2 linked regions of the Homo sapiens genome follow. The protein of the gene in region 2 purifies or fractionates together with the protein of the main gene of each other region. This does not show direct contact. Each region holds a gene or a part of one and is shown on either strand. Other genes may lie near its edges. The genes, in order: HEBP1 and GNPAT.

The links.
Region 1: the proteins of GNPAT (region 2) and HEBP1 fractionate together in Homo sapiens (co-fractionation; one large-scale study listed by BioGRID). This does not show direct contact.

Annotation. Positions count from the first base shown.
Region 1 is NC_000012.12:12,990,024-12,993,841, reverse strand, and holds part of HEBP1 (heme-binding protein 1), read left to right. Parts: intron 1-3,818.
Region 2 is NC_000001.11:231,268,632-231,272,449, reverse strand, and holds part of GNPAT (dihydroxyacetone phosphate acyltransferase), read right to left. Parts: intron 1,693-3,818; coding exon 1,450-1,692; intron 139-1,449; coding exon 59-138; intron 1-58. UniProt on the Homo sapiens protein: Dihydroxyacetonephosphate acyltransferase catalyzing the first step in the biosynthesis of plasmalogens, a subset of phospholipids that differ from other glycerolipids by having an alkyl chain attached through a vinyl ether linkage at the sn-1 position of the glycerol backbone, and which unique physical properties have an impact on various aspects of cell signaling and membrane biology.

The sequences.
Region 1 (3,818 bases), on a different chromosome or scaffold from region 2:
ATCATTAGATGATAACATTCTGTTTTCCTGGCATCTTCCCTTATAGCACCTGTAACAATGTTCAGCACATGGTAGATACTCAGTAGTTGTTGGTTAAATGAATAAAAGAAGAAAAAGACCAAAGGAAAGAGCCAGTTAGCTCTTTCTCCAGTGAGATCTTGTTTTTGGTCTTCCCATTTGTAAAAGAAGTAACTGCGTAAAATGACTTCTGATACCTCTATTCTGAATTTGATATGGGCATACAACTGTCCGCCCAAAGTATCTAACACAGTGGCTAAAGAGAGAGGTTACAGACTGGGCAACATTGCAAGACCCCATCTGAAAGAGAGAGAGAGAGAGAGAGAGAGAGAGAGAGGAAAAGAAAAAAAAAAAAAGCAAAGACACTTTGGAAGGCTGACATAGGTGGATCGCATGAGCTCAGAAGTTTGAGACCAGCTTGGGCAACGTGGTGAAACCCTGTCTCTACAAAAGAAGACAGAGAAAACAAAATACAAAAAAAATTAGCTGGGCATGGTGGCACACACCTGTAGTCCCAGCTACTTAGGAGGATGAGGTGGGAGGATCACGTGAGCCCAGGAGGCTGAAGTTACAGTGAGCCAAGATTGTACCACTGCACTCCAGCTTGAGCAACCATGAGACCCTGTAAGAAAGAGAAAGAAAGAGAGAGAGAGAGAGGAAGGAAGGAAGGAAGGAAGGGAGGGAGGGAGGGAGGGAGGGGGAAACGAAAGAAAAAAAGAAAGACAGAGAGAGGAAAGAAAGGAGGATAAAGAAAAGAAACAGAGGTTTAAATGCTCACTTCACCCCCCATAGCTTTAGAGAACCTTGCAACGAGTATTAGACTGGAGTAGACTAGAGTTTGGGAACTGGAATTTTTGTTTCAGTTTCACCATTCAGTAGTTACATCACTTTGAGCAACTTAGTCTCTCTGGTTCTTCATTTTCTCCTTGATAAAATTAGTTAGATTAGGTAAACTTTAAAACCATTTTAGGTTCTGAACTTCTGTGATTCACAGGATAGTGTTTCTGGAATTTAAAACATTACAAGTGCCAAGGGTAGGTGCGCTCTCAAATGAAAGGGGAGTTCTGGAATTCTCTGCAGCAACAGAAAGAGCAAAACACCCTAAGTTTACTTAACAGTTTGCTACTGAAGGCTCTTTGGAAGTGTCAGATTCACCAGATGGAGGGCTTCACAGCAGCCTCAGAATGATTCAGCACGGTGCCCCACAGTCAAGGCTGACTTGCTGCCTCATGATTCCTGGTCTGGCGCAATTTCCTCTACCCCATGTGAAGGGGGATTTAAGTACAAACTTGGCACTCAGGGTTAAAATTACAATATTAAGGCCGGGCACAGTGGCTCATACCTGTAATCCCAGCACTTTGGGAGGCCGAGGTGGGCAGAACACCTGAGGTCAGGAGTTCGAGACCAGTCTGTCCAATGTGGCAAAACCCCATCTCTACTAAAAACACAAAAATTAGCTGGGAGTGGTGGCGTTCGCCTGTAGTCTCAGCTACTTGTGAGGCTGAGGCAGAAGAATCACTTGAACCTGGGGGGTGAAGGTTGCTCTTAGCAGAGATCACACCACTGCACTCCAGCCCGGGTGACAGAGCAAGACTCTGTCTCAAAAATAAAATAAATATTAAATATGCTCATTGAGACTACACTTGCCACTCACAGCCGTACAGTCCTGCCTTCCTCCAGAGACACCTTCTGTCCCCCTGGGAGTCACACCCTCTTCCCTAGTTGTGAATCTTCAGTCTAGGATATTATATGAAAACCTATTTGACCAGTCTAGGGCAGCCAGGTTCCCTACCATGTGTCTGTTTTTCATAATCATTGTTAGGAGACACAGCACCTTAATCAAATAAATATCTGTTGCACTTCTCACATGTAAAGCTCTGTGGTATAGTTTCTGCCCATAAAGGCTTTATTGCAGATTGTTAAAACTATAATAATGTTTCATTACCAGATGGTAAAATTAACATAGACCAACTTTCCTTCTTCTAATGGGATGGAATAAAATTCACTCCAGTAGAGTAGAAGAGAAGAAAACAGGATAGGGGAAGGAACAAAAAAAAAGCCAGGATGCATCTCATCCATAAGGGTAAAGCATTACTTTGTGAAACTTTAACTATGTGTATATTCATGATAAGACAGGCTGTAAAAAATGCTTTCCTTCTTGTGGATTGTGATTTTTTTTCAAAATGTGAAGAACACTGCCTTACAGTATGTCCAGGAATACAAAATTAAATTATATGAGCAATCACGTGGCAAGGAGCAGGAGATGTACTGAAGGAGAGCTGTGGGGGTCCATAATGAGTAAACACCAGGGAAAGGATAGTCCAAGGACAGGGCCTCAATGCAGAAAGTGGTGATGGGGAGATGAAAGAAGGATTTGTGTGAAAAGAGACAGTGGAGCTGAGCATTAAGCAGATTGGGAGGCTGTGATTTAGTGAGACAAGAGTTAGGGAGAGGATATGCTGTGTCTGGGAGCACGGTGTGAACAGAGCTACAGTCAGCCCTTCCTGTCTGTGGGTTCTGGATCCACGATTCAACCAACCACAGATGGAAAATATTCAAAAAATAATAATAGCAATACAGCAATAAAAAATACATAAATCAACAGCAGAGGCCAGGCGTGGTGTAACTGCCCAGTGGGTTCACCTTGCCTGCTGCCTAGATAGAACCAATTTATCAAGACAGGGGAATTGTAATGGAGAAAGAGTAATTCATGCAGAGCCAGCTCTGCGGGAGACCAGAGGTTTGTTATTACTCAAATCAGTCTCCCTGAGCATTCAGGGATGAGAGTTTTTAAAGATAATTTGGCAGGTAGTGGCTTGGGGAGTGGGGAGTGCTGATTGGTCAGGTTGGAGATGGAATCATGGGGGGTGCCAAGTTAGGTTTTTCTTGCTGTCTTCTGTTCCTCGGTGCAATGGCAGAACTGGTTGGGCCAGATTACTGGTCTGAGTGGTGTCAGCTGATCCATCGAGTACAGGGTCTGGAAAATATCTCACGCACTGATCTTAGGTTTTACAATAGTGATGTTATCCCCAGGAGCAATTTGAGGAGGTTCAGACTCTTGGAGCCAGAGGCTGCATGACCTCTAAATTGTAATTTCTAATCTTGTAGCTAATTTGTTAGTCCTGCAAAGTCAGACTGGACCCCAGGCAAGAAGGGGGTCTTATTGGGAAAGGGCTGTTACCAATTTTCTTTCAGAGTCAAGCCACGAACTGAATTCCTTCCTACAATTAGTTCGGCCTAAGCCCAGGAATCCCACAAGGACAGCTTAAGGGTTAGAAACAAGATAGAGTCAATGAAGTCTGATTTCTTTCACTGTCATAATTTCCTCAGTTATAATTTTTGCAAAGGCAGTTTCAATTGTGGCTCATGCCTATAATGCCAACACTGGGAAGCCAAGACAGGAGGATTGCTTGAGCCCAGGAGTTTGAGACCAGCCTGTACAACATAGGGAGACTCTACCAAAAAAAAAAAAAAATTTTTTTTTTTAATTAGCAGGGCATGGTGGTATGCACCTGCGGTCCCACTTACTCAGGAAGCCTAAGTAGGAGGATCGCTTGAGCTCAGGAGGTCGAGGCTAGTGAGCCATGATCATACCACTGCACACCAGCCTGGGTGACAGAGTGAAACACTGTCTCAAAAATAAATAAATAAATAAAATACATGTGTGTGTGTTTGTGTGTGTGTGTGTGTGTGTGTGTGTGTGTGTGCACAGAGAGTAGCAACTATTTGCTTGGCTTTTACATTGTATTAAGTATTATAAGTAATGTAGAGATGATTTAAAGTATGTATGAGGATGTGTG
Region 2 (3,818 bases):
CTAACATTTCTAGAACTCACACTGCAAACATACTTGCTCTTTGTTGTAAGCACTTTACCTTTAGTGTGTTTCCTGGAAGGAAGATGAACTCATCTGCAAAAACATCACGTAGGAAGCGAAAGCAACTGTAGACATCCTCTGGAAATAAATGCATCATGTAAAATTACAACATTGCCCTTTAAACTTTAAGGGAGTACCAGGAAGTCCTTACTATCACAAAATGTATTTCAAAGGCATATTTTATTCATGTAACAGGGACAAGAATTAAGTCCCCTGAGGGAAGCTAAATTAAACCCAAATCTTACCCACAGAGCAAACTACGGTCTAGCATAGTTTGTTTTTTGTTTTTTGAGATGGAGTCTCGCTCTGTCACCCAGGCTGGAGTGCAATGGTGCAATCTTGGCTCACTGCAACCTCCGCCTCCTGGGGTCAAGCGATTCTCCAGCCTCAGCCTCCCAAGTAGCTGGGATTACAGGCACTCGCCGCCATGCCCAGCTAATTTTTGTATTTTAATAGAGACAGGGTTTCACCATGTTGGTCAGGCTGGACTCGAACTCCTGACATCGTGATCCTCCTACCACGGCCTACCAAAGTGCTGGGATTACAGGCGTGAGCCACTGCGCCCGGCCCTAGCATAGTTTTTAAATGATTGACTCTAACCTACAACCAGGCTTCTACTCAGCGAGACATCACAGTCCTTAGAGGCCAGGACGCTTCATTTTTCCCTACCCCATGGCTCCCTAGTAGGGAAGGAAAGGTACTGATTTCTTAATTTCCCTCTATATTCATATTTCCTGGTATCTTTATTATATCTGTAGCACTTTTCCTTAGAATCACTGTGGAGCTTTGAAAAGCCAAAACCAAAACCAAAACCAAACACCAATGGCTGGCCCATACCCCAGGTCAACTGAAGAAACTTTGGGGTGGGGCTCACTCCCCTAGTAATTCTAACATAGGGCCTTGACAGAACCCCCTGGCCTTGACTACAGGCTCCTGTGAACATGACGTGTACTGTACTCATTTTTATACTCCTGATACAATTAGAACAAGACCATGCATCTCGGGAGTACTCATCGACTGCTGACTGCTCATCTGCCCACCTGCCTTTGCTGGATCAGGGAGCTGGCACAGCCAAAACAGTGCCGCAGACCAGGAAGTGGAGAACTGTACTCAAATGCCAGATCCTTCTCTCAGTAATTATGCAACTTTCTAGGCCTCATTTTCCATATTTATAGAAGGAAAGGTTTAGATTATTTCCAGGTCCTCCCAATTCCAAAATTCGAAGCAGATGAACAAGTATTTGGGGAACAAAGCTAACTTTTTCTCAGTGATAGGCCTGCTCTTCACCGGCGTGAGGCTGAACATTACAAGGCTTCAAATGTGGCTCCCTAAATGGAATGGAATGGCCAGACCTCTTCTAAAAGTCAAGATTGCATTCCTGAAAATTACCTTTCCTGAACCCTGGTGTCATCTGCAATGCTACTGCTACTAAGGATGGGCGCACAAAAATGTTGAGCAGCTGGTTCCTATAAGCTGAGCACATGAGGAGAGTGATGTGCTGGAGCATAAGCCCATCGACCACTTCCGAGTCTCCGGAGTCCACTTTCAGAATCACCTGGTCTTTGACAAGGCTGGCAATGTTGGAATGCAGAAGAATGCTGGCCGGGACAACTTCTTCAGCAGGTTTATTATCTACACACAAAGACAATTCATTCAAACAAGATGGGTCACTGCAGGGAGTCTTAGGCCTAGCGTACGTTAACGTTATTAATGGTAACGTGACAGATGCTCATTTTCAAGTGACAGGTTTTACTGTCTACCAATTACGGTAATGATACCAAATCTGAAGAAAAATTTAAAAGTACTATTTCATAAATCAATTCTTTCTCTCTCTCTAAGGACATGTAACATACTTTCTTACCCCCAAAATTTGTCAGCCATTCTGAAAGGCACATCAGTTTCTACTCTGAAAATGAACACCACTTCTGTGTACTTCAGGAACCAAGGGAATCTAAAGTTTTCTAACAGCAAGTTACATAACTGGAAAGTCACATGCACGGGAATGTAAGAATACTAAGAAAAAGGCCCATGATTAGTGTATGAATACATTAAAACATACAACACACACACACATGCACACACACCCCTTGCTTAGACCCATACTAAAATGGTAAAAATATCACTTTGCAGTTTTCCCCAAATCAAAGATAACTAAAGGGGCAGCTCCATGGCAGTTGGTAGCTTATCACCTGACATATTGGCCTGCAGACAGCTGCCAGGCAGGTAGAATTACAGAAGCATAATGAAGAGATGGTGATATTTAACAAATATTCTCAGCACGGAAAATTATTCTGCAGTTAACCTGAGCCAAAGAGCTGGCTGGCAGTGGCACACTGCTCAAGTTGGGTGGCAAGTTCTGCTACTGCTTCAAGGCAGGGACAAGTGAGAGGTATGGCTTCCTCCTGGACTTGATCACATTCATTCTTGAACAACTTGCCTTGTCTCAGCTTGCTCAATTGAATAATATTTTATGTGAAATGATCATAAAAAGCTTGAGATATGAACATGCTTAGGAATGTGGGGTAATCTGCATAAAAAAAGAAAAAAGGAACAGAACTGTAGTGACACTGAACAGATACTCTTAGTTATGGATTAGTTATGGCATTTATCCCATCCTGAAAAAGCAAAACACTTTAGAAAAACAAGTACCTATGTTTTCATATGTTCCTGGGCCAAACAATGATGGGTTTGAGCCCTTTTAGCTATTTCTCATGACATCCAACACTTGCTACTTGTATCATAATTAACACATCCTTTGCCTCCTACCAGACCCAGCCCATCACAGCACTGAGAACAGGTGTCTGATTTGTCTCTCTCTTGGTGACTGGCATTTTTGTCAGTAAATCCTCCTCATCTCTTGGCTGTGCCCTGAGTGCCTCCACTGCTGCGGCTCAGGCATCTCAGGCATCCTGCATTTCTCATTGGGACAGAGCAGCCTCCTAACTTGTTTCTATACCTCCAGTCTTCTGATGGTGGATGGTGGGGAGGAGGCGGGGAGGTCCATCTTTATTTTCCATCTACCCACCACCCCATCTGGGCCAACACTTTAATATCACTGATGAATCTCTGGGGCCCAAGCCTCCCATCTTGCATTCCTCATCCCTGCCTTGGCGAGGATCCTCTCCTGGTCTTCCTGAAGGGTTCAAAAGTCGCTTCTGTGAAGTCTTCCTGAGTATGGTCCCTTTCCTCTGCAGCACTCTCAGGAACCCTCTGCAGCATGCATGTTGCTCCTTGTCTCTGTTCACTGAACCCTCACAACTTGTTTACACATTACCCACCCACCCTGCCCTCTGCAACCCAGGGGAACGTCCAGGATGGGGATGGCATCTTGTTCATCTTCATATCCCTGGTAGTACCCAGCACAGAGGAGGTATTCAGTATTGGGTTGATCAAAGAACAGTAGGTACTTGACTTCAAATAATTATCTGGTCTTTAAAAAAAAACGCATTTCCAACTGTAGCCTGTACAATTTTTTTTTTTTTTTGAGACGGAATCTCGCTCTATCACCCAGGCTGGAGTGCAGTGGCGCAATCTTGGCTCACTGCAATCTCTGCCTCCCAGGTTCAAGCAATTTTCCTGCCTCAGCCTCCCGAGTAGCTGGGATTACAGGTGCACGCCACCATGCCCGGCTAATTTTTGTGTTTTTAGTAGAGACGGAGTTTCACCATGTTGGTCAGGCTGGTCTGGAACTGCTGACCTCGTGATCCGCCCGCCTCAGCCTCCCAAAGTGCTGGGATTACAGGTGTGAGCCACCACGC